7 linked regions of the Homo sapiens genome follow. The protein of the gene in region 1 purifies or fractionates together with the protein of each later gene. This does not show direct contact. Each region holds a gene or a part of one and is shown in the gene's direction. Other genes may lie near its edges.

The links.
Region 2: the proteins of SLC2A10 (region 1) and SPTLC1 purify together in Homo sapiens (affinity purification with mass spectrometry; one large-scale study listed by BioGRID and IntAct). This does not show direct contact.
Region 3: the proteins of SLC2A10 (region 1) and CTSB purify together in Homo sapiens (affinity purification with mass spectrometry; one large-scale study listed by BioGRID and IntAct). This does not show direct contact.
Region 4: the proteins of SLC2A10 (region 1) and TM9SF4 purify together in Homo sapiens (affinity purification with mass spectrometry; one large-scale study listed by BioGRID and IntAct). This does not show direct contact.
Region 5: the proteins of SLC2A10 (region 1) and SPCS2 purify together in Homo sapiens (affinity purification with mass spectrometry; one large-scale study listed by BioGRID and IntAct). This does not show direct contact.
Region 6: the proteins of SLC2A10 (region 1) and LMAN2 purify together in Homo sapiens (affinity purification with mass spectrometry; one large-scale study listed by BioGRID and IntAct). This does not show direct contact.
Region 7: the proteins of SLC2A10 (region 1) and OMA1 purify together in Homo sapiens (affinity purification with mass spectrometry; one large-scale study listed by BioGRID and IntAct). This does not show direct contact.

Annotation. Positions count from the first base shown.
Region 1 is NC_000020.11:46,726,173-46,730,395, forward strand, and holds part of SLC2A10 (solute carrier family 2, facilitated glucose transporter member 10), read left to right. Parts: coding exon 1-152; intron 153-642; coding exon of another isoform or gene 643-691; coding exon 692-814; intron 815-1,996; coding exon of another isoform or gene 1,997-2,121; exon of another isoform or gene 2,122-2,455; intron 2,456-3,180; coding exon 3,181-3,316; intron 3,317-4,223. UniProt on the Homo sapiens protein: Facilitative glucose transporter required for the development of the cardiovascular system.
Region 2 is NC_000009.12:92,045,372-92,049,594, reverse strand, and holds part of SPTLC1 (serine palmitoyltransferase 1), read left to right. Parts: intron 1-1,886; coding exon 1,887-1,982; intron 1,983-2,326; coding exon 2,327-2,423; intron 2,424-3,541; coding exon 3,542-3,596; intron 3,597-4,223. UniProt on the Homo sapiens protein: Component of the serine palmitoyltransferase multisubunit enzyme (SPT) that catalyzes the initial and rate-limiting step in sphingolipid biosynthesis by condensing L-serine and activated acyl-CoA (most commonly palmitoyl-CoA) to form long-chain bases.
Region 3 is NC_000008.11:11,854,219-11,858,441, reverse strand, and holds part of CTSB (cathepsin B isoform 1 preproprotein), read left to right. Parts: intron 1-501; exon of another isoform or gene 502-584; intron 585-4,223. UniProt on the Homo sapiens protein: Thiol protease which is believed to participate in intracellular degradation and turnover of proteins. Cleaves matrix extracellular phosphoglycoprotein MEPE. Involved in the solubilization of cross-linked TG/thyroglobulin in the thyroid follicle lumen.
Region 4 is NC_000020.11:32,161,047-32,164,790, forward strand, and holds part of TM9SF4 (transmembrane 9 superfamily member 4 isoform 1 precursor), read left to right. Parts: intron 1-229; coding exon 230-319; intron 320-3,744. UniProt on the Homo sapiens protein: Associates with proteins harboring glycine-rich transmembrane domains and ensures their efficient localization to the cell surface.
Region 5 is NC_000011.10:74,965,730-74,969,952, forward strand, and holds part of SPCS2 (signal peptidase complex subunit 2), read left to right. Parts: intron 1-33; coding exon 34-194; intron 195-3,835; coding exon 3,836-3,970; intron 3,971-4,223. UniProt on the Homo sapiens protein: Component of the signal peptidase complex (SPC) which catalyzes the cleavage of N-terminal signal sequences from nascent proteins as they are translocated into the lumen of the endoplasmic reticulum.
Region 6 is NC_000005.10:177,338,169-177,342,391, reverse strand, and holds part of LMAN2 (vesicular integral-membrane protein VIP36 precursor), read left to right. Parts: intron 1-3,786; coding exon 3,787-3,904; intron 3,905-4,223. UniProt on the Homo sapiens protein: Plays a role as an intracellular lectin in the early secretory pathway. Interacts with N-acetyl-D-galactosamine and high-mannose type glycans and may also bind to O-linked glycans.
Region 7 is NC_000001.11:58,532,778-58,537,000, reverse strand, and holds part of OMA1 (metalloendopeptidase OMA1, mitochondrial precursor), read left to right. Parts: intron 1-259; coding exon 260-488; intron 489-2,669; coding exon 2,670-2,843; intron 2,844-2,940; coding exon 2,941-3,048; intron 3,049-4,223. UniProt on the Homo sapiens protein: Metalloprotease that is part of the quality control system in the inner membrane of mitochondria. Activated in response to various mitochondrial stress, leading to the proteolytic cleavage of target proteins, such as OPA1, UQCC3 and DELE1.

The DNA of each region.
Region 1 (4,223 bases):
ATCTGGAGACCCCTCAGCCCCTCCTCGGCTGGCCCTGAGCTCTGCCCTCCCTGGGCCCCCTCTGCCCGCTCGGGGGCATGCACTGCTGCGCTGGACCGCACTGCTGTGCCTGATGGTCTTTGTCAGTGCCTTCTCCTTTGGGTTTGGGCCAGGTAAGTGGAGTTTTCTTGCAGGTGACTCTGGAGACTTCTACCCCTCCTAGGGGGAAGTTTGGGGACTTCCCACCCTGATGACCTGGCAGGGTGTCAGTGGGGCACTAGAGGTGGGTTGACCATGAAGCCTCAGGGCCCCTCACTTACCTGCAGTTGCTCCTCCCAGGGCCAGTGCCTAATTTTATGTTTGTAATTTGTATTCCTTAAAAGCCTCCCCAAGTCATTTGAGCTTCAGGTCCCTTAAAGCCCGGATAGCTCACAACTGGAAGGAATTTAATGAATAGCGTGAAAACCAATCATCCCAGTTCGTCCAAGACTGTTCCCATCTCGGCATTGAAAGTCTCATGTCTCAGAAAACCTCTCAGTCTTCAGCAAACTGAGACTCTACTGTAATTCTTATAGCAGAATGGGAGTGGGAGTTTAGTATCAGGAGCCTGACACTAGAAAATCCCATTGTTGAGAGGCTGCATGTTTGACCTGATGGTGCCAGGCCCCAGGTCCCACCACAGCCCAGGAGCCCTCCTGCTCTCCCACCCTAGTGACCTGGCTTGTCCTCAGCGAGATCTACCCTGTGGAGATACGAGGAAGAGCCTTCGCCTTCTGCAACAGCTTCAACTGGGCGGCCAACCTCTTCATCAGCCTCTCCTTCCTCGATCTCATTGGTGAGTCCTTCCCAGACAAGTCCGTTTTTTTTCTGTGGCCCAAGCTCCCTACTCTAAAGCAGAAATTTTTGGATTTTCCTATGTATTAGCTGCAGAACTATTATTCTGTGCAGAAACATCATCAAATGTCCAAGACGACATCCAGGACCCTCATATGCACTGTAAAACTCCCCAGGCCAGCTAATGGGTGATGGTCTACACCCAGTACTGGTGAGAGGTCATCTGAGGTCAACCGGCAGGAGTAAGAGTAGCAATGTTTATTTGCTCCAAACTGGCTTAAACTGGTTCATGACACCTGCCAGGTGGAAGTTTTTCTTGGCTTTTCTTTTCTTTTTAATTTTTAATTTTTTTTGAGATGGAATCTTGCTCTGTCACCCAGGCTGGAGTGCAGTGGCACAATCTCAGCTCACTGCAACCTCCACCTCCCGGGTTCAAACTATTCTCCTGCCTCAGTCTCCCGAGTAGCTGGGACTACAGGCACCCGCCACCACGCCCGGCTAATTTTTGTATTTTTTGTAAAGACAGGGTTTCACCAGGTTGGCCAGGCTGGTCTTGAACTCCTGACCTCAAGTGATCCACCTGTAATCCCAAAGTGCTGGGATTACGGGCATGAGCCACCGTGTCTGGCCTGGAAGTTTTTCTCAAATCAAGTTTGGGTGACATCATCTCTTCCTCCCTAGCATTGAAACCCATTCTGAGGTGTGGTGGGATGGGGTGGAAATGATGTGGGCCCAGAACACCAGGGAATGACTCTGAGATGCTGAGATGCTCATGGCTCCAGGCCCTGGTCTTCAGTGGGTATTGCTCATCTGGGCCAGAGTACACAGGCTCCTTCACTGTGGTCCCCAAGGCACAGTTCTTAGGGTTCAGTTATTTTCCTATTCCCTATGGCCAAGAGTTTCCTTCCCAAAGGTGCAGCCAACTTGGGAGGCTGGGGGGCAGTGCTGTGGGAAACCCCAGTGGAAGAACCCCCCCTATCATGGCTGTCTTCCAACCCCAGTCTTAGGGAATCCAAGCTTCTCCCTGCAGCCTCAGTCTTCAAGCATTTCCCTTTGTGTGGAGTAAATGAGTGAGAGAGGAGAAAGAAGGAGAGAAACAAGGAAGGGAGGAAGGAAGGGAGGGAGGGAGGAAGGAAGGAAGGAATTTATTAGAATTGTGTCATATATCATCCCCATTTCACAGATGGGAAAATACATCCTTACCCCGTCCAGCCAGGGAGTCAAAAGACTAGAACCAGCCCCACTGCCTTCCAGCCCATTGCTCTCCCTGCTGGCGATAGGTCCAGCTGGTCATGGGAGGCTGCCTAAAGGAGGTATGGACGTGGCTGTCAGAGGTGAGAATGGCTTCCAAAACATAATTTGTCTTCCACCTTGACAAAGATCCTTCCTCCACAGCCTCTTCTCTGTCTTGGGATGAATGACATCAAATGACTCAGGGTCATTCCCATCTTGGCTGCTGGTTCTGAGACCCACCGGAGGCTCTAGGAGGAGGCTGACTCTGGGACTGAACTGTGGCTTTTGTCCTCTCTCCCAAACCAGTCACAGGTCAAACTGGCTGAAACTCAATTCTCTGAATGATCAATTCACTGAATGACCGATTCATGGAATTTCTGGGTGTGTTTTTTTTTTTTTTTTTTTTTTTTGAAACAGGGTCTCACTCTGTCGCCCTGAGTGCAGGGTGGAGTGCAGTGGCATGATCTCGGCTCACTGCAGCCTTGACCTCCGGGGCTCAAACAATCCTCCAGCCTCAGCCTCCCGAGTAGCTGGGGCTACAGGTGTGTGCCACCATGCCCAGCTAATTTTTTTATTTTTTATTTTTAGTAGAGACAGGGTTTCACCATGTTGCCCAGGCTGGTCTTGAACTCCTGAGCTCAAGTGATCCTCCCACTTTGGCCTCCCAAAGTGCTGAGATTACAGGCATGAACCACTGCACCAAGCCCAATTCATGAAATTTCTAAGGATTTTTTTTTTTTCAAACTGAGATTTGCCAAGGCCGTGTCCATGCAGCTGTTTGGCCACTCAGCTGGATCCACGATCCCTCAGGCCAGGCTTTCGGAGCCCAAGCGTGCTCCACGGGATAGTGCTCTAGATGTGGGTGAGGGGCCTTTCCCATAAACACAAGTTGCCTTTGTCTCTGTGCTTGTGGACTTGCGTCCTGGCTCATCCCCGCCTTTGAGACAATCAGCGAGATTTCCGCTTTAAGGTACTTCACTGACAGCTTATTGGTCACTCTGCAAATTGACCAACGGGAACATTTGCTTTGAGTGAACTGACTTTCCATGCCTGACCTAGAACCTACCAGTTGGCCCAGGCTGCGGGGCCAGAGTGCTTGGTCCTGGGCCTACACTCCCGCCCTCCTGTTTCCAGGCACCATCGGCTTGTCCTGGACCTTCCTGCTCTACGGACTGACCGCTGTCCTCGGCCTGGGCTTCATCTATTTATTTGTTCCTGAAACAAAAGGCCAGTCGTTGGCAGAGATAGACCAGCAGTTCCAGAAGAGACGGTAGGAAGCTGACAGGGTGGGTCTGGGGGAAGAGCTGTAGCACACCCCAAGCACACAGCTTCAGGATTTTAGTCTTTGTGCTTTCCTTTTGCAAGCGGGCATTCCTCCTGTCTTCCTTATTGCCTGGGCACTATGAGTTTTTTTTTTTTTTTTTTTTTTTTTTTTTTTTTTGAGATGGAGTCTCGCTCTGTTGCCCAGGCTGGAGTGCAGTGGCGCCATCTCGGCTCACTGCAAGCTCCGCCTCCCGGGTTCACGCCATTCTCCTGCCTCAGCCTCTCCGAGTAGCTGGGACTACAGGCGCCCGCCACCACGCCCGGCTAATTTTTTGTATTTTTAGTAGAGACGGGGTTTCACCGTGGTCTCGATCTCCTGACCTCGTGATCCGCCCGCCTCGGCCTCCCAAAGTGCTGAGATTACAAGCGTGAGCCACCGCGCCCGGCCGGCACTATGAGTTTTGTCCGGTCACACACAAACTGTTTTCCTTGAGTTGTTTTGTGTCTCCCTACAGTGCCTTTTCATTTGACTTTAAGACCCAGCTCATGGGGATTTAAAAATCATTTGATTATGGAATCACAGGAGGCTAGAAGAGTAGAATCTTAAAACCATAAACTATCTTAGAGTCACAGGACCTTGGAGTAGCAAAATATCATAACTATGGCCTTTAAACATTGCACGCAAAACGCTTGTGGGCTTCATGCATTCATTCCGTGGCTATTTATTAAGTCCTTACTCTGTGCCAGACAGTGTTCAGAGCCTTAGGAAACATGCTGAGATTAAGGAAGACAAAGTGCCTGTCCTCAAGAGCTTCCATTTGATGGGGGAGGGAAGCCAACAAATGCATAAACAAGAGCGTTTTAGTTGGTGATGAGTAATTAGGAGAAAATGAAGCAGAGCAAAATATGTTGAG
Region 2 (4,223 bases), on another chromosome or scaffold:
AGAGAAAGGATACTGTTTCTGGTGTTTAAAAATCTGTATTCTATATAATGTGTTTGTGGGAGGTAGATACAGTTACGCGTGCGTGCGTGTGTGTGTGCATGTGTGTGTGTGTCAGAAACACCACTGGCATGCATTCAGCAAAACCTCTTAAAGTCCCAAACAGAATGAGGTGTCATGTTTCCTTTTCTGAGGGAAATGGACCCAGACTGCCCGCAGTGCCTAGTGGGTTTTGCTCCTGGAGCCTCAGGGCAGAGGAAGTCAGCCAGTCTTGAACAGCTGTCTTACCAACCACCATGGGAAGAGTTACAGAAAGCTTTTTCTCCAAAACATGCGCATAAGAGCTGTGCAACCTGTGTTACAGAGTTGAACTATAAAACGTAAAATTGCCTTACATTATCGACATCCCGCTAACCATATAGTCCCAGAGAAAAATGTAAAGCAGAGTGAATATCCCGGGAGGTTGGATGGAAGCACCTCCTCCAAGGCAGACTGACATTCAGCAGTTACATGCACCGAGGAGGTAAATGGAATAAATGGAAAGATAAATGGAAGTGTAATTCAAGCAGATTTAGCAGTACACTACAGCCTTTTTTAAGGCATGAAAATTTTTATGGAGGAAAAAACTTGAACTTCACTGTTGTAGTTTTGTGAATGCTTCCAGCAGTTGTCACTTTGGGAAATACTGTGAGGAAATACTCACAAGCGCCTGAGAGTAGAGAGCAGAATGTACGGGCTTTATTTGGATCCTGATTCAAACAAATGCTGTTAAAAGAAAATTTGGTGAGACAATCAGAGATATCTGAACACTGAATATTTGAATATATTTAACATCAAATTTAAACTTAACATTTAAAAATTGTTAATGTCTTAAGTATGATACTAGTTTTGTGATTATGTTTTGAGAGAGTTTTTATCTTTTAGAAATACACAGTGCAATGTTTATAGATGAAACCCCATGAAGTCTGGGACTCACTACAAAGAAATGATGAGGGTGGTAGGGGATATAGGTGAAGCAAGGTTGTCCTTGAGTTGATAATGTTTGAATCTGGGTGATGGGGATTCTTTGTTCTGTTCTACTTTGTTCAGGCTTGAAATTTTTCATAATGAAAGGTTTAAACATGCTTTTTAAAAAGGGCAGGAGTGCAGAGTTTCTCAAAACTCTGCTGGATCTATGAAACACTAAGGAAAACACTAGCTGTGTTCTGACAATCCATTAACATGGCCATCAGTAAGTAATGATTGAATGCCTACTGTGTGCCCAGAATGGAACTTGGTGCTGAGGGCTGGACCCAAAGATGAGGACCGAAGGAGTTCTGAGTGGTCAGAAAGATGTAGGACTCAAAGCCCATTAGGTCATTTTAGAGCACATTAGGTTCTTCTGCTGTCCAGTTGGTCAAAGATTCCATCGCCATGACGTTTGGATAAATTGACTTATGAAATGCTGAGAGGCAAACTGAATACAAGAATAAAGTGCTCAAAACTTCGATAGACTTTTTATTTATCTCAGTGCATCCCATGAGGAAGGCCAGCTAGACCACTGTTTTAGCGAGGAAATAGTCTTATTTTGTACCTGTGACTACTTTTAATATCGAACAGCTTTGGGTTTTATTTTCTTATAATTTATTTGTCTTTGCTGTGAGTTAATTTGTCATGTATAATGAAATGGTAAAAATGTATAAAATGAGACAGTTTCAGATGGGCCATGAGACTACAGTTCATTCAGCGATAGATGTTATATGGTTTATTTTTTATTTTCATGTAGATAGGTAGTTTGAATCCAGATATTAACAGACAGTTTAATGCTGTTAAATTTTGTCTCTAGGCTTGAAGTTGGCCTTTTTTTTCTTTAAACTGTGGAATAACTGTCACTCCTCCTTTTCCGGCAGATTGATGATATTGATCTTATCAGTGCCAACATGGAGAATGCACTTGCTTCTATTGGAGGTTTCTGCTGTGGCAGGTCTTTTGTAATTGACCATCAGGTGGGTTCTTTTTAAAAACAGGAGCTAAAACTGAAACTAATTTCTCCATTGGTCACCTCAAAATATAATTTTGAAATACGAAATTTTACTTAGTTTATCACACAATTTTTATTTAAATGTCAATTTTTAAAGAATCACTCAAAATATTTCTATTTAGAAATGATCTCACATTTAACAAAAAGTCTTGTTGCTGTTACACGTATAATGTTTATTTATGGCTGGATCTTACCCCCCTCACCACATGTACACACTGTTCAGTAGTTGTTCTAGAGAACTGGTGCCTTTCAAATGTTTACCTAGAAAGGACAGAGAATGTGTATATGTCTTCATTTGTTTCTTCTCAGCGACTTTCCGGCCAGGGATACTGCTTTTCAGCTTCGTTACCTCCCCTGTTAGCTGCTGCAGCAATTGAGGCCCTCAACATCATGGAAGAGAATCCAGGTATAACCCTTTAAAAACCCAAGGAATCAAAGAGATTTCAGGTTACGTTAGTTGTGTTACTGATTTACTTACTGGAGAAATTATTTGCCAGACAAAACTGGTTTGCAGTTACATTATATGGCATTCATAGGAAGAATGGCAGTGAAGAAGCTATTCCTGCCCCAAGGACTTGGGGTCAGAGCTTTTCTCCTGTGCTTGGGGCCAGAGCCAGAGCCAAAGCAAGGCTAGCTCAGATAGTGGGTGGAGATGCTGGGAGGACGAGGGGCTCTCAGCCAGTTCTGGGCCTAAACGTTCCATTGGTGTAAATAAGCCAGTCTTTATTTGGTTAATAGTTTTTTGAGAAATCAGCTGAAGCATGCTGCTTTTTTATCTGTGCAATTTTATAAATATTGTGAGTTTTCACCTTTAGCCTTTGAATCATCAGTTGGTACTGAGGCCAAGCCGGGTTTACCAGCAAAGAACTTACTCAGTGGGAAAAATAAAAAGTCTACTAAGAATTTAAAATGTGGCCTTTGGCTATGACAGTGCCACCTTTGCAAAGCTTAAAACGGAAAGGGAGCAGCAGGCCCTACCCGGTACAGTATTTCTGAATCTTCATCACTGATACTAATTCAGAGAACCAGAAAATGTGTGTCTCTGTGCTCATTCATATGCTTGCTTCTCAGATGGCCTGGCACGCCTACCTTCTGATCAGATACTTTAGTTTTGGGATTTTCCTTGAATAAAAAAGGAAAATATCAAGAAAAGATTGTAAAAATTACTTTACTATAGTTGATTTTTTACCAAATTGTTTAGGATAAAGAAATAAGCAATAAATTTGTACCCTTTGATTCTTAGCCAGATTAGGATCTTGATGAGAACAAGAGGCATTGATTGTTCTTGAAAGCATCATTCCAGGTTTGTTGAAAGTGGGATACTGAGGTGAGAAGGGGCCAGTTAGCACGCACCAGAGACAAAGCTTGGGCCTTCAGGGGAGTATGGGTTCTTGGCTCTGTTAGTATGTAGAAGGATTTGTAGCATTTTAAATTGATGAACTTGATCTGGGTCTTCAAAAATATTTTTAGGTTAGTACTATCATAAGTTTCAAATAGACTCTCAAACGTATTTTTTTCATCTAGGTATTTTTGCAGTGTTGAAGGAAAAGTGCGGACAAATTCATAAAGCTTTACAAGGGTGAGTTTTATATATTTTCAACCAACATAAAGTTTATCTGCACCACACTTAACAACTAATGGAAAGTTTTAAATTTCTAGGCTTGGGTCAGTTTGACCAGATTGCAGCTAAGAAACCAAAAACTTAGTTCACTCACATTGGTTTATTTGTGTAAAACCAGATCATCTGTTTTAAAGAATCGTGACTTTGTTTTTCTGAAAATGAAACAAACTCATTAATAAAATATTACAGCAGTACAGAAGATAGAAAGATGAAAATAACAACCCAACATCTTACCACCAGAAATAACCAGGGTAAACACTGAAGCATCTCTCCATGTCTGCACACACAGGGATGCCATTATATATTATGTAATTAGATGACTGGGTTCATACCATCTGTGTTACTTTTTAATAAATTACTAAGTTTTAACACAAGAAAAAGAAACAAGTGAAATTTTATCAGTGTTTTTTTTTTTTTTTTTTTTTTTTTTTTACTACACAAGAGTCACTTTTTTTTTTTTTATTATACTTTAAGTTTTAGGGTACATATGCACATTGTGAGGTTAGTTACATATGTATACATGTGCCATGCTGGTGTGCTGCACCCACTAACTTGTCATCTAGAAGAGTCACTCTTTAAGATTCC
Region 3 (4,223 bases), on another chromosome or scaffold:
ATGCCTGTAGTCCCAGCTCCTTAGGAGGCTGAGGGGAGCAGATCTCTTGAGCCCAGGAGGCAGAGTTTGCAGTGAGCCATGATCGTGCCACTGCACTCCAGCCTGGGCAACAGAGTGAGATCCTGTCTTAAAACAAACAAAAAAAACAAACTTGTTTTCATTTAGACTCTTCCTGGCGTTGGGGACCTATTGGAATAGGTTTAGTGTGAACTGAGAGCTAGAAGTGTTAGAGGAGAGAGGGAGGGAACAGAGCCCGCTGGAGCGAGTGCCCTTCCTACCTTATCACTGCATGCCAGGCATGTGCCGGCGCTTTGGTCCTCCTCATTTCATTCTTGACTGCCACCTGAGACACGATGGTTACTAGCTCCATTTTATAGGTGGTGAAACTGAGGCTTGGGGAAGGTCAGACCCCAAGGGTGCCATTTAGTCAGTGGCAGAGCCAGATCCAAATGCAGGTCTCCTGACTCCAAGTGCAGGGCTCATTTTATCGTCCGGTTGCAGCACGCTGGCGGCCCCTTGAGCCCCAACCTGGATACCATAGGGGAGGAGCAGAGAAGCCAGGAACACCACAGCCCTGGGCCAAGGTGCGGGGCTGAAAGAACTTCCCAGCGCTCAGCCTGGGACTAGTGGAATGGGCTGGGCCCTGGGGCTGGCAGCGGTGGCCCCGGGGAGCCTGGGAATGAGTAGGGAGCACAGGGAGGTGTGGGAGGGCCTGGGAACCATGAAAAGGAGGGCGGGTGCAGGGAAGTCGCCTGCTAGTGAAGTGGCGAGGGGGCCCTGTGGGACTCCAGGGAATGGCCACGGCAGGTTGTCCTCCAGGAGTTGAGAGCCACTGGACATGGCAGCTGCCTGTGTTCTCAGCCACCACAGTAACCAAAGAAATCTTGGTTTTAAAATTCAAGTTGCCATGGAAACGCTCCCATCCTCGACTTGGCTTATTATTTAAAATAACATCTCTACAGCACAAAGCCCCCGGGTACATCCAAGGACACTGCTGTCTGCCCACGAGACATGCTAACCTCACAGTGTGGAGGCTGTGTGGGTCACTGACATGCATGGCCACGTGAGACGCTGCCTACCCACGAGTCACGGAAAAGGGGAAGATTATTAAGAAAGTCACTAGGGGCCAGGTCCAGTGGCTCATGCCTGTAATCCTAGCACTTTGGGAAGCTGAGGCAGTTAGATCCCTTGAAGCCAGGAGTTCAAGACCAGCCTGGCCAACATAACGAAACACGGACTATACTACAAAAATTAGCCAAACGTGGTAGCACAGGCCTGTAATCCCAGCTACTCAGGAGGCTGAGGCACAAGAATCACTTGAACCTGGGAGGTAGAGGTTTCAGTGAGCCAAGATTGCGCCACTGTACTCCAGCATGTGCCACAGAGCGAGACTCCCATCTCAAAGTCACTAGGGAGGAAGCCTCATTGGTGGGAAGGAAGACCAAATTGGAAATGCTCTGAGGAATCATTAAAACAAATGTCCTTTTATCAGTTTGGTGGCTCAGGGCCTTTAGTAATACTGCCAACTATTTTTCCTAGAAGAAACAAAACTGAAATAATAGGAACATACTCACTTTTTTTTTTTTCTTAAAAGTAAGGGTATGTTGTGAAAAAAAGTCTCCCCACCGTAGTGACCGACTGCCGTGCATCTTCCTTGGCATTTTGCATGTAGTGGCAGGAGTGTTCCTACATGTGTAGATTGCTGAGAGGGTCAGATGCTTATGGTCCTCAGTCACCCACAGCTTGCTTTTTCCCCACTTAACATTGGGACTTGGGGCATTTTTACTCTGTTAATACAATAGAATTCACTTCAACTAGTTGGTTTTTTACTTTTATTTTATTATTATTATTTTTAGATGAAGTCTCAATCTGTCGTCCAGGCTGGAGTGCAGCCTCTGCCTCCTGGGTTCAAGTGATTCTACTGCCTCAGCCTCCCAAGTAGCTGGGATTACAGGCATGCGCCACCACGCCTGGCTAATTTTTTGTATTTAGTAGATACAGGGTTTCACCACCTTAGTCAGGCTGGTCTCTAACTCCTGACCTCAGGTGATCCAACCGCCTCGGCTACAGGCATGCGCCACCGTGCCCCACCAACTAATTGCTTTTTTAATGGTTGCTTCATATTCTATTTAACCACTTACCGTAATTTAACAGTTACTCTGTTATTGGATACTTGATTCATTTCCAGGACATGCAGATTTAGAAACTGGTGGGCGTTGCTGGTTGATGTCTCGGTGGTTGTGCCCACCCACCCCAGGCACTCATTATCATGCCTTCCGTTTCCCCACTTCCTAAGCCCTGCAAGAAGTGCCAAACTGTCCAGCCCTTGCCAATCTGATACATGCTGAATACCTCCTTGATTTTATCTGCACCTCCCTGAGGTTGAACTTATTTTACTTTATTTTATTTTATTTTTGAGGCAGAGTCTCACTGTCACCCAGGCAGGAATGCAGTGGTGAAATCTTGGCTCACTGCAATCTCCACCTCCTGGGTTCAAGTGAGTTGAAGCAATTCTCCTGTCTCAGCCTCCCAAGTAGCTGCGATTACAGGCACCTGCCACCACACCTGGGTAATTTTTGTATTTTTAGTGGAGACGGGGTTTCACCATGTTGGCCAGGCTGGTCTCAAACTCCTGACCTCAGGCGATCCACCTGCCTCAGCCTCCCAAAGTGCTGAGATTACAAGCTTGAGCCACCATGCCGGTTGAACTTATTTTTATCTGTGTTGGCCATTTGTAGTTTTTCTATTATGCTGGTTCCATTTTTCTGACTTTGAAGAGCCTTTTGTGGAAACGAAGCCTAAAGTATATGTGAGTACTGCTTTGTTTCGTCAGTTTTTGTTTTAAAGAGACTTTTCAGTGTAATGCAAGCATTTTCCCTTGAAGGCTGTGTTTCCTGTCAATCCTAAGCTTTCCTCCAGCATTACCTTTTTAAAAAACTTTATTTTCTATATTGATGGGGTCTCACAATGTTGTCCAGGCTGGTGTTGAACACCTGGCCTCAAGTGATCCACTTGCCTTGGCCTCCCAAAGTACTGGGATTATAGGCATCAGCCACCGCACCCAGCCTGTTTTTCAAAGGGCATTGATTTTTTTCATAAAACTTTTTAAATTAAGATCTGTGGGCCTGGTGCGGTGCCTCACGCCTGTCATCGCAGCACTTTGGGAGGCTGAGTCAGGTGGATCACGAGGTCAGGCGTTCGAGACCAGCCTGGCCAAAATGGTGAAACCCTGTCTTTACTAAAAATATGAAAATTAGCTGGGCATGATGGCACATGCCTGTAATCCCGCTGCTCGGGAAGCTGAGGTAGGAGAATAGCTTGAACCCAGGAGGCAGAGGTTGCAGTGAGCCGAGATCATGCCATTGCACTCCAGCCTGGGGGACAGAGTAAGACTCCGTCTCAAAAAAACAAAACAATTCTGTGTTGCATGTGGTACTTTTTGTGTGTGAGGAGTCCAGTGTGAAGATTCAGACTTCAGGCAGCCACTTGTACAAGCACTGTCCTGTTTCCTCTCTGGCCTCACCTAGGTAACGCTGATTCCTCCACGGAGGATGTGCTTCTGAGTGGTCCGTTGGGTGCTGTGCTGATGAGCATCACCCAGCATTTTACGACACATGTGCTGCCCCAGAGGGCTGGGCTCCCGTCAGAGCTCTTTTCCACTGGCTGGGTGCGGTGGCTCACACCTGTAATCCCAGCACTTTGGGAGGCTGAGGCCAGTGGATCACCTGAGGTCAGGAGTTCGAGACCAGCCTGGCTAACATGGTAAAACCCCATCTCTACTAAAAATACAGAAATTAGGTGCGTGTGGTGGCGCACACCTGTAATCCCAGCTACTTGGGAGGCTAAGAACCTGGGAGGTGGAGGCTGCAGTGAGCCAAGATTGTGCCACTGTACCCCAGACTGGGTGACATGGCCCACAGACCAAGACCCTGTCTCAAAAAAAAAAAAAAAGCTTTTTTCCAGAGCCATCTTGCTGTCCTCATATATTTATTCTCCTAGATGAATTGTTGCTTAAGCAACAATGAAGTTTAAATTGTTCTTCAGATAGAACCCCTAGGTGCCAGGCAGTTTGTTAAGCACTGACACCGCAGTCCTGTGACTTTCATGACGACCTGTGACCTGTGGGAGGTAGAACACCTCACCCACCCGTGGGAGCCCCTGGAGTGACTGACAGGAACCCCTGCCTCACCCAGCTCCCCGCGCCGCGGCTCTCCCCAGCCCTG
Region 4 (3,744 bases), about 15 Mb from region 1:
TTTTAATGAGGTATAAACTGTAAAGTTCACCCTTCTTTGTCCACAGTTCTGTGGTTTTTAGAAATGCATACAGTTCTGGAACCACCATCACAGTCAAGCTGTGAAACATTTCCATCACCCCATATGTTACTGCTCTTACCAGAGTCTTCAGCCCCTCAAGCAACTGTGAAATTGGTAGGAAGGGGTTCTGCCCCAGGACAACACTGACCTTCCTCTGTTTCCTCCTCAGGATTACCGCTGGTGGTGGAGAAATTTCCTAGTCTCCGGGGGCTCTGCATTCTACGTCCTGGTTTATGCCATCTTTTATTTCGTTAACAAGGTACTGCCCTCCTTGAGGAGGTCCTCTTAGTCCTCATAGGGTAGGAAGGTCAGGAGGAGGATGCTGGGAGAAAAACCCAAGTGCCTGAATCTTCCTTTTCCACCCAGAATGGGGAGGACCAAAGCCACCTAGAACTGTTCCTGCTCTAGAAGATGGATCTTTTTAGGAAAGAAAGAATCTGTATTCTGTATGTTTGGGAGACAAAGGCCATCAGGATACGTGACAATGTGAATAATGCTTGTAAAACTTACGAGGTATAGCCATAGCCAAAGCAGGACTTGAAAGCAATATGTCACCTGCAGTGCTCTTCACAGGAAATAAGAGGGACTAATAACACCTTGAGAAAAAGGAAAAGATAAGAGTAACATGAAAGAAGAAAAGTAGAAAGGAGTTAATAAAGATAAAAGCACAAAATGCTGAAATAGTCTAAATAGTAGAACCCAAATTTAGGGCTGCAGGTATCCTGTCTCTGCAGGTGTTCTCTTCTTCACGCAAGTACTGTTCAATCCTGCAGAGTAAGGAGAGGATGGGAAAGTTTTTCACAGGCACCTCGGAGCCCTCCTAACTCTGTGACCCCACATAGGTAAAGTGTGGCCCAATAATAAGAGGGAGCCAGGCTTACCTGACTAGGGCAACTCACAGAGCTCATTGTCCCGAGAGAGAGACGTGGGCAAGAATACAGATGTCCCCACGACAGTTTTACTAGATTCATTCATGATACACAAACCAGATGAGCCATTGAGAGGAATTTGGAGGAGCCCTGTTGGGCCCCTCACCTCCAAAACTAATACTCAAGACTTACTCTGACCTGCTGTACTTTGGGTCTCCAGAGCCCAGAAGCAAGCAGTCCTCTGTGGCAGTCAGGCGTATTTGCAAAATAGAGTTGTAGGTCAGTTGATCGAAGCTGGGAATGCCGTTTCCCAAAAACAGTCAAGTTGGAAAAGACTGGAAGGATCATTTAGTGTAGTGCTGTACCCCTACCTCCAGTCTGGTGACTGTGCCCCTCTTCTCTAACAGTCTCAACAGATGATTCTCTAGCTCAGGGGTCAGCAAACTGCAGCCCGCGTGGGCCAGCAGGCCTGTTTCTATAAATTTTTATTGGAACACAGCCATGGTCATTCATTAACATATCTGTCCATGGCTGCTTTCACACTACAATGGCAGAGTTGAGTAGTTGCGACAGGGACCATATGGCCTGCAGAAACTAAAATATTTACAATCTGGCCCTCTAAGTAAAAGATTGCAGACCCCTGCTCTACTACATCCAGCAACAGAGAAGACACTCCCTCCTAACATTCCCATTCTTTCTGGACAGCTCCTGTCATTATCAAGGTCTTGATTCACACTGCAGTCTCCCTTGCTGTGACTTCCATCTTTAGACCTTAGTCTTAATTCTGGGATCATCTAGAACAAATCTAATCTCCCTCCTCTATAGCCCATATTAATCATAACTCTCATAAGTGGCAAGTGACTAAAACTCTATCAAAGTAGCTTAAGCAAAAAAAAAGGGAAAAAAAGTAGCTTAAGCAAAAAGAATGTATTTGCTTATATAACTGGAAAGACTAAGAAATTGGAGTTCTAGCCTCAACCATGCTTAGATCCAGAGTCTCAAAAATATCAGGGCTCAATCCCAGCACTTCGGGAGGCCGAGGAGGGTGGATCACAGGGTCAAGAGATCGAGTCCATCCTGGCCAACATGGTGAAACCCTGTCTCTACTGAGATACAAAAAATTAGCCGGGCGTGGTGGTGCACGTCTGTAGTCCCAGCTACTCAGGAGGCTGAGGCAAGGGAATCGCTTGAACCCTGGAGGCAGAGGTTGCAGTGAGCCAAGATCGTGCCACTGCACTCTAGCCTGGGTGACAGAGCAAGACTCCATCTCAAAAAAAAAAAAAAAAAAAAAAAATATATATATATATATATATATATATATGTATGTATGTATGTATGTACACATACATACCAGGGCTCTGTGCCCACGCCTTAGCCCTGTGTATCTTTTTTTGGCCTCAGTCTGCAGGCAAGATCTTTTCACAAAGTAGAAAGATGGCCAGTGGCAGCCCTAGAGTCTACTCTTTCCAGCTTTGCAGCCCTAGAGCTAAAAGACTGTCTTTCGTCTACCATGATACGTCAGCCAGTGAAGACACGCTGCTCTGCTCGGGTGACATGCCCAGTGCTCACTGTTTTCCAGGTCCAATAGCATCACATATTCAGACAGACTGGCTTAGGTCTTGTGCTAGGAATTTTTTTTTTTTTTTTTTTTTTTGAGATGGAGACTCGCTCTGTTGCCCAGGCTGGAGTGCAGTGGTGCGATCTTGGCTCGCTGCAGCCTCTGCCTCCCGGGTTCCAGCGATTCTCCTGCCTCTGCCTCCTGAGTAGCTGGGGTTACAGGTGCACACCACCACGCCCGGCTAATTTTGTGTTTTTAGCAGAGACAGGGTTTCTCCATGTTGGCCAGGCTGGTCTTGAACTCCTGACCTCATGTGATCCGTCTGCCTCAGCCTCCCAAAGTGCTGGGATTACAGGCGTGAGCCACCGCACCTGGCCTATTTTGTGCTAGGATTGATGGCCCCAACAGGACCAGGTGTTTTGAGTGTTCCTCAAAACATCTGGAATATGGAAGACAAGGAACACGGTTAAACAAAACTAGAGATCACATCACAGCCTCTTGTCCTTCCTCCCTTCTGCTCCAGTCTTCTTGCTCTGCTCAAAAAATCTCTTCCTCCAGCCCCAATGCCTTATGTATAAAATGAGGAACTTTCTGGCTCTGCCTCTTTGCCTCGTCCCTTGCCTCCTTTTACCACGGTTCTGCTCCTTGTCCCTCCCCCACCCCTCCCCCGACCACCAGCCACAAGAATGCATATAACAAGAGATGGAGGCTGGGTGCATATGGTTCACACCTATAATCCTAGCGTTTTCAGAGGTGGGAGGATAACTTAAGTCCAAGTGTCTGAGACCAGCCTGGGCAATAGAGCAAGACACCATTGCTAGAAAAAATATTAGCTGGGTGTGGTGGCACACACCTATAGTCTGAGCTACTTGGGAGGCTGAGGCAGGAGGATCCCTTGAGCCCAGGAGGGTGAGGCTGTAGTGAGCTGTGATCATGCCACTGTGCTCTAGTCTGGGTAATAGAGGGAGACCCTGTCCCTTTAAAGAAAAGGGGTTAGGGGAGAGATGCGGGGCTGAGCCTGAAAACATGGCCTTCACCCCTTAGGCTTAGGAGAGGGCTTCAAATGGTGACCTATTTTGTTTTCTTTGTTTCTTTACTGTTTTCTTCTGGGCTACTGGCATTCTGTGACCATGTGTCTGCCTGTGAGTCCTGGGACAGGCCCTACTCAGGCCCTGGGCATATCTTGATACCAAGGTTCCACATTAGTTCCCTTTGTAAATAACACAGATCCCCAGCATCTCTGCCCAGCCTCTAAAC
Region 5 (4,223 bases), on another chromosome or scaffold:
CCTATTAGCTTGATTCCTTGTTTTTCTCACCAGGTACTTCTGGAAAAATACAAATATGTGGAGAATTTTGGTCTAATTGATGGTCGCCTCACCATCTGTACAATCTCCTGTTTCTTTGCCATAGTGGCTTTGATTTGGGATTATATGCACCCCTTTCCAGAGTCCAAACCCGTTTTGGCTTTGTGTGTCATATCATATCCTTTATTTATGCTCAGGTTGTTTTCTAGTGACTATTTTTTTAAATCTGCTGATATTTCTCCCTACAAAAAACAAAACGGACTTTCATATTAGGGCTTGCTAATGTTAGAATTCAACATTTTGAGCTGTGATGTTTATATAGTAAATATCTATCAGTTTATATAGTAACTGTCACTGATATTTTATGTTTTGTATGGTTATTTTATCGTAATTCATTTTTGTTATTAATGTAGAGGTTATTGTCCTAATATGAGCACTTAATAGCAAAACACATAGTAATAGTGAACCCAGCTCTTCTCATTTCTAGCCCAGAACTTTTCCCGTTAGACGTGGCTGCTTCAAGCCACTCATTCTAGGATATTAGGAAAGGATCTGATTTTGGAGACTCAGATCTGTATTAAGTTTACTTGAAGCTGAGGAGCTGAACTGGAAAGTACTGAGCATGAGATACAAGTGTGGCTTGTATTACAGTGGAATTAAGAACTTATTCTGGAGCTAGAGAATATGGGTTTGAAATCCAAGGTATCTGTGATCTTGTGCTAATGAAAATTTACTTATTTTTGAGATGATTTGAATACCACTCATTTATAAATATGGGTAGCATTCAGAATTATCATAAAGATTAAATGAGAGATTTTATATTGTATTTGATACATAATCATTTCCTTTCCCCTCTTTTTTATGATAAATGTAAGATCATGGTCGTTGCCTACCCAGCGTGATTTTTTTTCTCAAGAAGTTGAATATAAAGAACTTAATTATACTTCACTATTAAAATAGGTAATTTTGGTTGGTAGTTTACTTTTTTAAACAATGTTACCACTACCTAAATTTTGTTTTGTTTTCTTTTTTTTGAGACAGGGTCTTACCGTGTCACCCAGGCTGAAGTACAGTGGTGTGATCATGACTCACTGCAGCGTCAGCCTCCTGGCTCGAGCAATTCTCCCACCTCAACCTCCTGAGTAGACGGGCACATGCCACCATGTCTGCCTAATTTTTAAATTTTTTACAGAGACAAGGTCCTACTACGTTGCCTAGGCTGGTCTCAAAACTCCTGGGCCCAAGCAATCCTCCCAAAGTGCTGGGATTACAGGCATAAGCCACTGTGCCCAGCCAACCTGAAATATGTTTTAAAACTTCATGTTGGGGATTTATCTTCAGAGGCAGTTAGCAAACCTCTGATAAAGCAGATCCTAGTCAAAAATTGTATTATCCAGATTGCCCCACATTTCCCCCAGAAGTGGCACCAGGTGATCCTTGACTCCTTTCAGTAATCAGATTAATCATCCCAGTATGAATTTTTCACTATTAAGGCAGTTCAGAAGAATAATATTCCATAGGTTCTAGAGACAGTTCCCAGGGGAATTCCAAAGAGATTTGAAAATGATAGCAACATTATTACAAATATCTGGCCTCCCAAGAGAACTACCTTGATGGTAATTCATTTGTTTGGTTATATTTGTTTAATAAAACAAGGTCTTATTTTTGTCATGTCAGTTTTATTTATAATGTAGGGACTACCATTATAAATGTCTTCTGTTGCTGGGCATCGTGGCTCATGCCTGTAATCCCAACACTTTGAGAGGCCAAGGCGGGCGAATCACTTGAGCCCAAGAGTTCAAGGCCAGCCTGAGCAACTTGGAGAAATCTGTCACTACTAAAAATACAAAAATTAGCTGGGCATGGTGGCGCATGCCTGTAGTCCCAGATAGTTGGGAGGCTGAGGCACAAGAATCACTTGAATCCAGGGGGCGGAAGTCACAGTGAGCCGAGATCTGCTACTGCACTCCAGCCTGGGCGATAGAGCAAGACTCTGTCTCAAAATAAATAAATTAATTAGATAAAATAAAAAATAAATTAGCTGGGTGTAGTGGCACACACCTATAATCCCAGCTACTGAGGAAGCTGAGATGGGAGGATTGCTTGAGCCTGGGATGTTGAGGCTGCAGTGAGCTGAGATCATGCCACTGTACTCTAGCCTGGGTGACAGAGTGAGACCCTGTCTCAAAAAAAAAAGTCTTCTGTATCCTAGACTGCATATATCCTTCATCTCTAAATCTCATGATAATTCTAAAACATCAGTATTATCCCAATTTTAAAGGTAAGGATACTAAGACTTGGGGAAGGAAGTTATTTGTTACAATCATACTGATTAAAGGCCAAGATTTAAATCTAGGATTATCTCTACTCTAAAGTCCATATACTTTGTACTATATTTTCCTGCCTTTCCTGTTCATGAAATTTATCTATTTTTTAACTCTTCTTTAATGGAATGCTTCATGAATTTGCCTGTCATCCTTGTGCTAGGGCCATGCTAACCTCTGTATCGTTCTAATTTTAGTATATGTGCTGCCGAAGCGAGCACTGTTCATGAAATTTATTTTTATTTTATTTATTTTATTTTTATTTTTTGATACAGGGTCTCACTCTGTTGCCCAGGCTGGAGTGCAGTGGCACGATCTTGCCTCACTATAGCCTCTGCCTCCCAGGTTCAAGTGATTCTCCTGCCTCAGCCACACAAGTAGCTGGGATTACGGGCCTGCACCACTACATCCAGCTAATTTTTTTTTGGTTTTTGTGGGTTTTTTTTGTTTTTTTTTTTTTTTGAGACAGAGTCTTGCTGTGTCACACAGGCTGGAGCACAGTGGCACGATCTCGGCTCACTGCAACCCTGCAACCTCTGCTTCCTGGGTTCAAGCCATTCTCATGCCTCAGCCTCCTGAGTAGCAGGACTACAGGCATGTACCACCATGCCCAGCTAATTTTTGTATTTTTGGTAGAGACATGGGGTTTCACCATGTTGGCCAGGCTCATCTCGAACTCCTGACCTCAAGTGATCTGCCCACCTCAGCCTCCCAAAGTGCTGGGATTACAGGTGTGAGCCACCACGCCTAGCCTTAATTTTTGTATTTTTAGTAGAAATGGGGTCTCCCATTGTTCCTTGTTGGCCAGGCTGGTTTCAAACTCCAGGTCTCAAGCAATCCACCTGCCTCGGCCTCCCAGAGTGCTGGTATTAAAGGTGTGAGCCATCGTGCCCAGCCTTGTTTATGAAATTTAAATGGCACAGTATACACAAAGCTCTTATGCCAGTTTTTGGCAAACTATAAGTGCTTATTAACTATGGTACTTAATACTGTCAAAAACAATATAATAATAAGTCTATATGCATATAGGAAGTAATCGTAGTACTATTTGACATACTCTCTTATAGTAAACTATTTGGGTCACTTTTCTTCTCTTAATAACCCTTAAAATCAGTTGAACATGGTCAAGTCCACTGGGACTATTCGTTGTTTTTTATAAAGAAATAAGCACTATTATAACAAAGTCTTGACAAACTAGGTATCTTATTATACATGTTGTCTTTGAACATAAAGATGAGAGCTAGTTTATGCTCTGTATCTTTTTCTTTTCTTCCTTTCTGAGGTGTTTGCAGAATTAACCAGAGAGAGCCTTGCTTCTCTTGGTATATAAACATAAGGATGAAAATGAAATAGCTAAATTTTCAGTGTTTTGGCAGCAAGACAAAGCTGTCTTCTTTAGGACTATCATTATGAAAGTTTTTATATCTGTTGCTTGTCAATTTGTGTTACTTCTCTTTTATGTTTGGGTATTTTCCCCTTAACTTTATTTGAACCTATTTTGTGATGATGGGGATTCTGACCATTTATACCTCATATAAGGAGAAGAGCATCTTTCTCGTGGCCCACAGGAAAGATCCTACAGGAATGGATCCTGATGATATTTGGCAGCTGTCCTCCAGTCTTAAAAGGTATGACTATCCTCACAGATTTTTAAATCCTGGTGTTGGATTTGCCCTGGCATGTTGTCATTATCAACAGAAGACTTATTATGTGCCTACTCTATGTGGATCATAGGGCTAGTCATATAAAATGAAGAAAGGAGTATGGATGATCTAGAAGGTTTGTCCTAGCCCTATAGTTCTGAGATTGCGTTATCACAGAAATGCTCTGAGGATAAACTGTGGGAGAAGGTACTTTTTCCTGTGGCCAGTTAACAGAGAC
Region 6 (4,223 bases), on another chromosome or scaffold:
TCTTAAGTTTAGATCTCTGATCTTTATATACTTATTATTATTTTTTTTTATAGAGATGGAGTCTTGCTGTGTTGCCCAGGCTGGTCTTGAACTCCTTGGCTCAAGCAAACCTCCCATGATGGCCTCCCAAGGTGCTGGGACTACAGGTATGAGCTACTGCACCTGGCCTCTTTACTTTTCAAATTAAACTTTTTATTTTGACATAATTATAAATTCACATGCCGTTGCAGGAAATAATACAGAGATCCTAGGTGCCCTTGGGTTTTGTTTTTTTATTTAGCATTTAGTCCATTTACATTTAATGAAATATGATACATTTGGGTTTAATCTGCTATCTTACTCTATATATTCAAATTGCCTATTCTCTGTTCATTTTTCTCTCTAGTCTTCTTTTAGGTTAATTTTTATTATCCTATTTTTCCTCTTCTATTAGCTTGAAAGTTATATGCTCTTTTCTCAGTTTTAAGTGGTCACCCTAGAATTTAAAGCAGGCATTCATGTTGTACCAAAGACTAATGATAATGTGTACTTTACCTTCTTCCTGGACAGTGCAAGGATCCTAACACACTTTAACTCCATTTATTGTTGTCATTTGTTTTAATTATTTCTGTTTTAAATCACACAACCCATTGTTTTGTGCAGTCAGATATTTAGATTTTCACCCTTATAGTCACTGTATTTGTTGTTCTTCGTTCCTTCTGGAATCTGACTTTACATCTGGATGGGGATCATTTTCTTTCTCCCTGAAGAATGAAAGTGTGAGTCTGCTAATGAATTCTTTTGGTTTTTGTTTGTTTGTCTCAAAATATCTTTATTTTACCTTCATTCTTGAAGGATACATTTGCTGAGTATAGAATCCCATGCTGGCTGTTACCTTCCTGTATCTCCAAACATATCAGTCATCTGCCTTCTTGCTCCCGCTGTTCCCGCCGTGAAGCCGGGTGTCAGGCTGATTATTGCTCCTGTGAGAGTCATTGCCTTTTTTCCCTCTGGTTCCTTTTTCTTTAAGATTATTATTTTTTTTATGGCCGGGCGCGGTGGCTCACGCCTGTAATCCCAGCACTTTGGGAGGCCGAGACGGGCGGATCACCTTAGGTCGGGAGTTCAAGACCAGCCTGACCAACATGGAGAAACCCCGTCTCTACTAAAAATACAAAATTAGCCAGGCGTAGTGGCGCATGCCTGTAATCCCAGCTCCTCAGGAGGCTGAGGCAGGAGAATCGCTTGAACCCAGGAGGCAGAGGTTGCAGTGAGCCAAGATCACGCCATTGCACTCCAGCCTGGGCAACAAGAGCGAAACTCTGTCTCACAAAAAAAAAAAAAAAAAGAAAAAAAAAGGCTGGGCGTGGTGGCTCACATCTGTAATCTCAGCACTTTGGGAGGCTGAGGTGGGCGGATCACAAGGTCAGGAGATCGTGACCATCCTGGCTAACACGGTGAAACCCTGTCTCTACTAAAAATACAAAAAAATTAGCCGGGTGTGGTGGCGGGCGCCTGTAGTCCCAACTACTGGGGAGGCTGAGGCAGGAGAATGGCGTGAACCCGGGAGGCAGAGCTCGCAGTGAGCAGAGATTGTGCCACTGCACTCCAGCCTGGGCGACAGAGTGAGTCTGATTTTTTTTGAGAAAGAGTCTCACTCTGTTGCCCAGGCTGGAATGCAGTGGCACAATCTCGGCTCACTGCAACCTCCACCTCCCAGATTCAAGCAGTTCTCCCGCCTCAGCCTCCCAAGTAGCTGGAATTACAGGCATGTACCACCACGCCTGGCTAATTTTTGTATTTTTAGTAGAGACGGGGTTTCACCATGTTGGCCAGGCTGGCCTCAACCTCAAGTGATCCACCTGCCTCAGCCTCCCAAAGTGCTGAGATTACAGGCGTGAGCCACTGCACCCGGCCAAGATTCTCTGTTTTTAAGGAGAACAATAGACACTCCAGACTAGATGGGGGAGGACGTGGGTTGAAAAACTACCTATTGGGTACTGTTCTCCCTGCCTGGGTGCAGTATACCCATGTAACCTGCACATGTAGCCCCTGTATCTAAAATAAAAGTTGAAATTGAAAAGAAAGAAAAAATGCTTTTGTGGCACACGTTCTCAGGATTGCCTGGGGCTGTACCACGGGGAAAAAAATTAGAAAAAAATAGTTTCATGTTAAAAAAAACTTTTTTGTTGTTGTTGCTGTTTCCTCTATCCCTCCCTTCTTTTTTTGTGCCTAAATATGGTTTTCTTTTTAGTCATCTCCTTTGGTTTGTAGGACTTTTCAAGTTTGTGGCGTGTCTTTGAATCAGTTTTAGTAAGTGCTTAGACGTCTTTAAATATTCCTTTGCCTTCATTTCTCACATCTTACTCGGGAATCCCAATTATATGAGTCTTAGCCTCTCTCACTGTTTCCTCTGTCTCTTACCCACAATTCTATATCTTCCATTCTTTTGTGCTCTCGGGGACTCGGCCTAGGTTTTGTTATCTGGGTTCCTGGTGCCCAGAGTGGGAGCAGTGAGTCTGTGGCATCAATGAATGCATGAAGCATATTGCTCAAATTGGGGTACAGTGTTTTTTATTTTTCTGTGATCACAGAAGTAATATGTTTATTATACATTATTCAAACATGGTAAACAGTCGCCATAATCCCCCTCCCAGAATTACCCATCATTAATACTGGTTCATGTTCCTTTACTCCTGTATTCATTTCTCTTCATGCTCATCTGCATTGGACGTTAATGGTCTTTTTCACAGTTGCCAGTCTGACAGGTCAACATCCTGTTTGGGTTTGCCTTTGTGATGGGTCTTTGTTTAATCACTTGCTTACATACCCATCTGCAGACTTCCTGAAAGTGGATTCTTGTCACCGTGTGTGTTGACACCTTAGTTTTCACAAGCGACTTCCTGATGCCTAAGGCAAGGCTTTCTCCCTTGGCGTAGGCGGTGCCCATCCCTGCCCCAGCTCACATGGTGGTGCCCTTGAGTCCCAGAGCACGACCCTGACCAGCTCTCATCCCCAGCGCTGGTACCACACTTAGGCTGGGCTGGGGAGGTGAACTGGTGAAGGGCTGGGTTTTGGAGTCAGCCAGACCTGGGCTTGAGGCCAGCAGCACTGACCCGGCCTGATTTTCCTCACTTGGGAAGGTTGGTTAGCAGGGTGGATGTGGCAGTGGATGTGGGTGACCAGAAAGGGGCTGGTGCAATTTATGTGAAAGGCCTGCAGGCCGCGGGAAGTACTGAAGGCAGAGCAGAGCTCTCGGAGTCAGAAAACCCTGCATGTGAATCCAGACAGTCCGCTGAGCAGAGCTCTCGGAGTCAGAAAGCCCTGCGCGTGAGTCCAGACAGTCCACTGAGCTGCTCTGGACAAGTTGTTACACCTCTGAATTTGTTTTCCTGTAAAATACTTTGCTCAAATAGGAGTTGTAACGTCTGCAGAAGGTTCCAGGGCAAGAGCAGTGGATGGAGAGGAAATGGCTGGTGGGTTTGGCTGGTAATGAGGGTGAACAGTGTGGCAGCCACCTAAACCTACTCAGGAGCAGCCTGAGGTCTGCTGGCGGGGTCTGGGCCTCAGGCAGCCTTGGAACACTGGCCTCCCCCACCTCACCTGGTGCCCAACAGTCTCTTCCCTTCACGGCCAGAACATTTAGGGGTCTGTGGTCAGTGGCACTTGTGGCCCTGTGCCAAGGAGTGCCCAGTCTTAGCTGGGGAGAGAAGAGAGGTCTGTGGGGCAGGGGCCGTGCTGGGGTTGCCTCCAGCTTGCTGGAAGGCCCTGGGGAGCTCTGAGCAGCCCATTCTGCTCTCCCTCCAGCCGTGCTTCCTCAAAGACTGGGAAATGCACGTCCACTTCAAAGTCCACGGCACAGGGAAGAAGAACCTCCATGGAGACGGCATCGCCTTGTGGTACACCCGGGACCGCCTCGTGCCAGGTGGGCTGGTGTTCGCTCAGCTGGGCCCTGTGGGGGTGGGCACGGGCATGGCTGCTGGCCCCCTAGGGAGGTGGGGTGGGGCTGCCTGTGGCTCGTGGGGACCAGCGTCTCCTCTCCTGTTAGGAAAGTGCTGCCTCCCGTGGATAAAGTCCTGCGCCTCCGGAAGGAGCCTGGCTCTGGAAGGAAGGTCACTGAGGGGAGAGGAGCAGCTGGGTCCTGCAGCTCAACCCTACACCCTCATTGGCCTGGTTTTACCATTTTAAACAGTTATTGTTGTAAAAAAGCCAAAACATGAAGACTGTGTGGCTGTGACTGCATG
Region 7 (4,223 bases), on another chromosome or scaffold:
CATTTAGTGTTTATCCTTAAAATAGCTGAAGAAGAAAATTTCGATGAGTATTAGAATTTTTTAACTGTAACTTTACATCATTGATTATTTTTTCATCATTTAGCTAAGAATTTTATTAATTGGAAAAGCGATGTATTCAGCGAAATACATCATACAAATTCAGGTATTTGAGGACGTAAAATTCTAGTGTATGCATTTGAGCTTTAGTGATATGTGCTGGAATGATTTTCAGAACTTTGAATTTTTCTTTTTGCTTTAGGGGCATAAGGAAATGGTGGCAGGCACTTCCTCCTAACAAGAAGGAAGTAGTTAAAGAAAATATAAGGAAGAATAAATGGAAGCTATTCCTTGGTTTGAGTAGTTTTGGATTGCTCTTTGTGGTGTTTTATTTTACTCACCTGGAAGTAAGTCCAATCACAGGAAGGAGCAAGCTACTATTATTGGGGAAAGAACAGTTCAGACTTTTATCGGAACTGGAATATGAAGCAGTAAGTAGTAAGAGTTGTTTTTAATTAGACTGCTTAATATAACACTCAAAGTAGGAAAGTATCTTAAATGTGAAAGATATGTTGTTTTTTAATTTTAGTCTTTGATATGAAATTAGCATTTTTTTTTCCCGAAGGCCTCAGACCTTTCACACTTAGTATTCCTACTGCCTACATTGCTTTTCCTAGCATTCACCCAGCTAACTCCTGCTCAGCACATTTCACCTTAAATGTCACTTTTCTCAGGAAAACCTTCCTTGATTATCCAGACTGGGTTAGGCAGGGTGACTGGATCAGGCCCTAGGAGGTATCCTTCATACCGACTGAATTATGAACCAGCTCATTTGTAGTTGCGCCCATTGCTTGGCTTTACTGGGGTTAGGTCTCCTAGGCTTTTTTTCTCTGCATACTGTACTTTTCCTTCAAAGCACTCATGAGAGTAACATAATTATTTGCATAATTATTTTTTTGATTGTCTTTCTTGTTAGACTAAGCTTCATGGGGGCAGGGATCTTACCTGTTTTGTTTATGGTTTTAAATACTAACACAGTATGTAAGAGTAGAGCTTAGTATATATTTATTGAATAAATAGATTTATAGTCAGAATTCTTATACCTTGAAAATCAAGTAATATAAGATTTTTTTCCCAAACATCAGTTTTAGCAATTTATTATATTTTTTGAATCCAAATTTAAGTTATAATTTAGAAGTCTTACCTCTTTGGAAAGTATAGTAACTCAGGTAGTTAAACATTTTGTACCCTAGTGAGTTTCTTAGGGACAGAGGTCATTTTCTCTCCAGTTCATAGCACATACACATGTTATGTGCCCTGTGGCTCAATTAATATTTTTCGAATTCATGTCCAGTAGCCTCACTTGACAGCTTTGGCATGGCTGAATCTTTTTTTTTTTTTTTTTTTTGAGACAGAGACTTGCTCTGTCACCCAGGCTGTACTGCAGTGGTGCCATCTTGGCTCACTGCAACCTCCACCTTACAGGTTCAAATTATTCTCCTGCCTCAGCCTCCCGAGTAGCTGGGACTACAGGCGTGCGCCACCACGCCTGGCCAATTTTTGTATTTTTAGTAGAGATGGGGTTTCATCCGTGTTGGCCAGGATGGTCTTGATCTCCTGACCTCGTGATCTGCCCACCTCCTAAAGTGCTGGGATTACAGGCATGAGCCACCATGCCCAGCCGCTTGTTGATTCTTAAGTGAAAAAAAGCATACACTTTATGAAAGTTAAAGTAATATTTCAGAACATTTTTAATTTTCTCAGTACACTTGAAAGAGCTCTCATGAATATAACTTCAGAAAAAGTATCTTCTGTGGTGGCTAGTCTTAATCAGCATCTTTTAGAGACAGTGATAATGCTCATTAGTTCTGAGAATTCAGTAATTTCCTTTCAATCTGTGAGTAAAACACCTTAAAATTAATGAAATGTCTATTTTGGTAGTTTAACTTTCTTATTAGGTATAGGGTGTTTTTCTGTTCAATGCATTGTGAATTTAATTTTCTTTTGTATTTTACTTAGATGAAATCTTAAGTTCTCCAGGCTCTCCTTTTCTTTTCTTTTTGAGATGGGATCTCCCTCTGTCACCCAGGTTGGTGTTGGAGTGCAGTGGCGAGATCTCAGCTCACTGCAACCTCCACCTCCTAGACTCAAGCGATCCTCCCACTTCAGCCTCCCATGTAGCTGGGAACACAGGTGCATGCCACCACGCCTGGCTAATTTTTTGTGTTTTCGGTAGAGACGGGGTTTCACCATGTTGCCCAGGCTGGTCTTGAACTTCTGAGCTGAGGTGATCCTCCTGCCTTGGCCTCCCCTAGTTCTGGGATTACAGGCGTGAGCCATCTTGCCCTGGCCTAGGCAGTGTTTTCTAAAATGTTTAGGAAAGTAGAAATAATACTTAAGTATTCGTTTGTAGTTTAATCGAAAAGAATGAAATTTTGATGTCAATCTATTCATAAAAAAACTTAGTATTAGAATTTATTCCTTTGTAAGAAACCACATTGTCTTTGCATGAATAATTCAGATTTGAGAAATTTCAGTGCTTAATATATGCAGATTTTTATATAATTAAAACTTAAAATGTTCAATAATAAGTAGCCATATAACTTTCCATGAAGCAGAGTAAGCATTTTGTAGTGCTCTTTTAAAATAAGAAGTAATTTTTAATCTTTCAGTGGATGGAAGAATTTAAAAATGATATGCTAACTGAGAAAGATGCCCGATACCTGGCTGTTAAAGAAGTGCTTTGTCATCTAATTGAATGCAATAAAGATGTTCCAGGGATCTCTCAGATCAATTGGGTTATTCATGTGGTTGATTCCCCAATTATTAATGCCTTCGTGCTTCCAGTAAGTAAATGTTCTCAAACGCATTGTAATTGTTAAATTTATTGTCCTTATTTTTTATGATGTTCTAATTGCTTACATTATTTTCTTTGTGGTGCAGAATGGACAAATGTTTGTTTTCACTGGATTTTTAAATAGTGTAACCGATATTCATCAACTTTCTTTCCTTCTGGGCCATGAAATAGCACATGCAGTACTTGGGCATGCTGTAAGTACCTAAAATGAATGTTCAGGTTTGGAAAAACTGCTTTGAAGTTAACAAGTTAAATCTTTTAAAGAACTGATTTTTTTCAGGTTTTTTAAAAATGATAGACTTTTAGTTTTGGGTAATTGCCTTAATCTGCTACCTGAAAAAAACGTGATTGGCTAATTTTGAGAATTTTTATGGTCTTTAGTATTTGATACTGAATAATATTTTTCTTAAATACTATTTTTATCACCTGTCTCTTTTGCTAAAACGTAATTATTCTCAACCCCTAATTATTTCAAATTAAATTTTAAACTTTCTATAATTATTAATATACTTGTAATCTAGTCAGAAAATTAATTGTAGGGAAGTGATATTACTATTTAAGTGGGTAAATCATCTTTCTTTTTTATTCATTCTCAGAGGATAGCTTGGAGCATCTTTGAAAATGTCTAGAATGATGTGTCATGTGTAATTAATACAGAGTAATAACAATACCTTGCCATTTTACAGTTTACTGAGCTTTTTAGTATATGTGGCTTCCCATTCATAATTTTAATACCCAATGAGGTATGTATTTATTATTACTATTTTATATAAGAGAAAACTAATGTTTAGAAAAACAGTAACATGACTAACCTGACAAAGTAACCGAACTGGGACTTTAACGTGGGTCTTCTGTATGTTAGTCCAGTGTTTCTTCCTTTCACTACAGTTACCTGGTTTTTAGCAGCGCTTTTCTTATAGATCATAGAATTCAAGTTGATGTATGCTCCTGTGAATACATGTCTGTTCATCTTGATATAAGTCCAGGAAAAATAACACATCTGTTTCACACATTTTTTAAATTGTTATTCATTTAAAAATATAAATGGCTCTTTTGTCTACATTAGAGAAAGTATTTTTTAAATTGTAAACGCAAAGGTACATAGTGAAGTGACTGAAATGCTAAATCAGAAATACAAGTAACATTAACTTCAAATGGAAATGATAATGATTCTAATCCTTCTAAGAGTAATCTCAAATTCTACCTGTTCCTTAGACTATTAATAAGATGAGATGGGCTAAATTGTTTTTCTGAAACACTGAAAGTAATTATCTCCTTGATTTCTTTTGAGTTACAGGAAGATTTTAAAAACATTTTTCTTGACTGGGTGCAGTGGCTTATACCTGTAATCCCAGCACTTTGAGAGGCT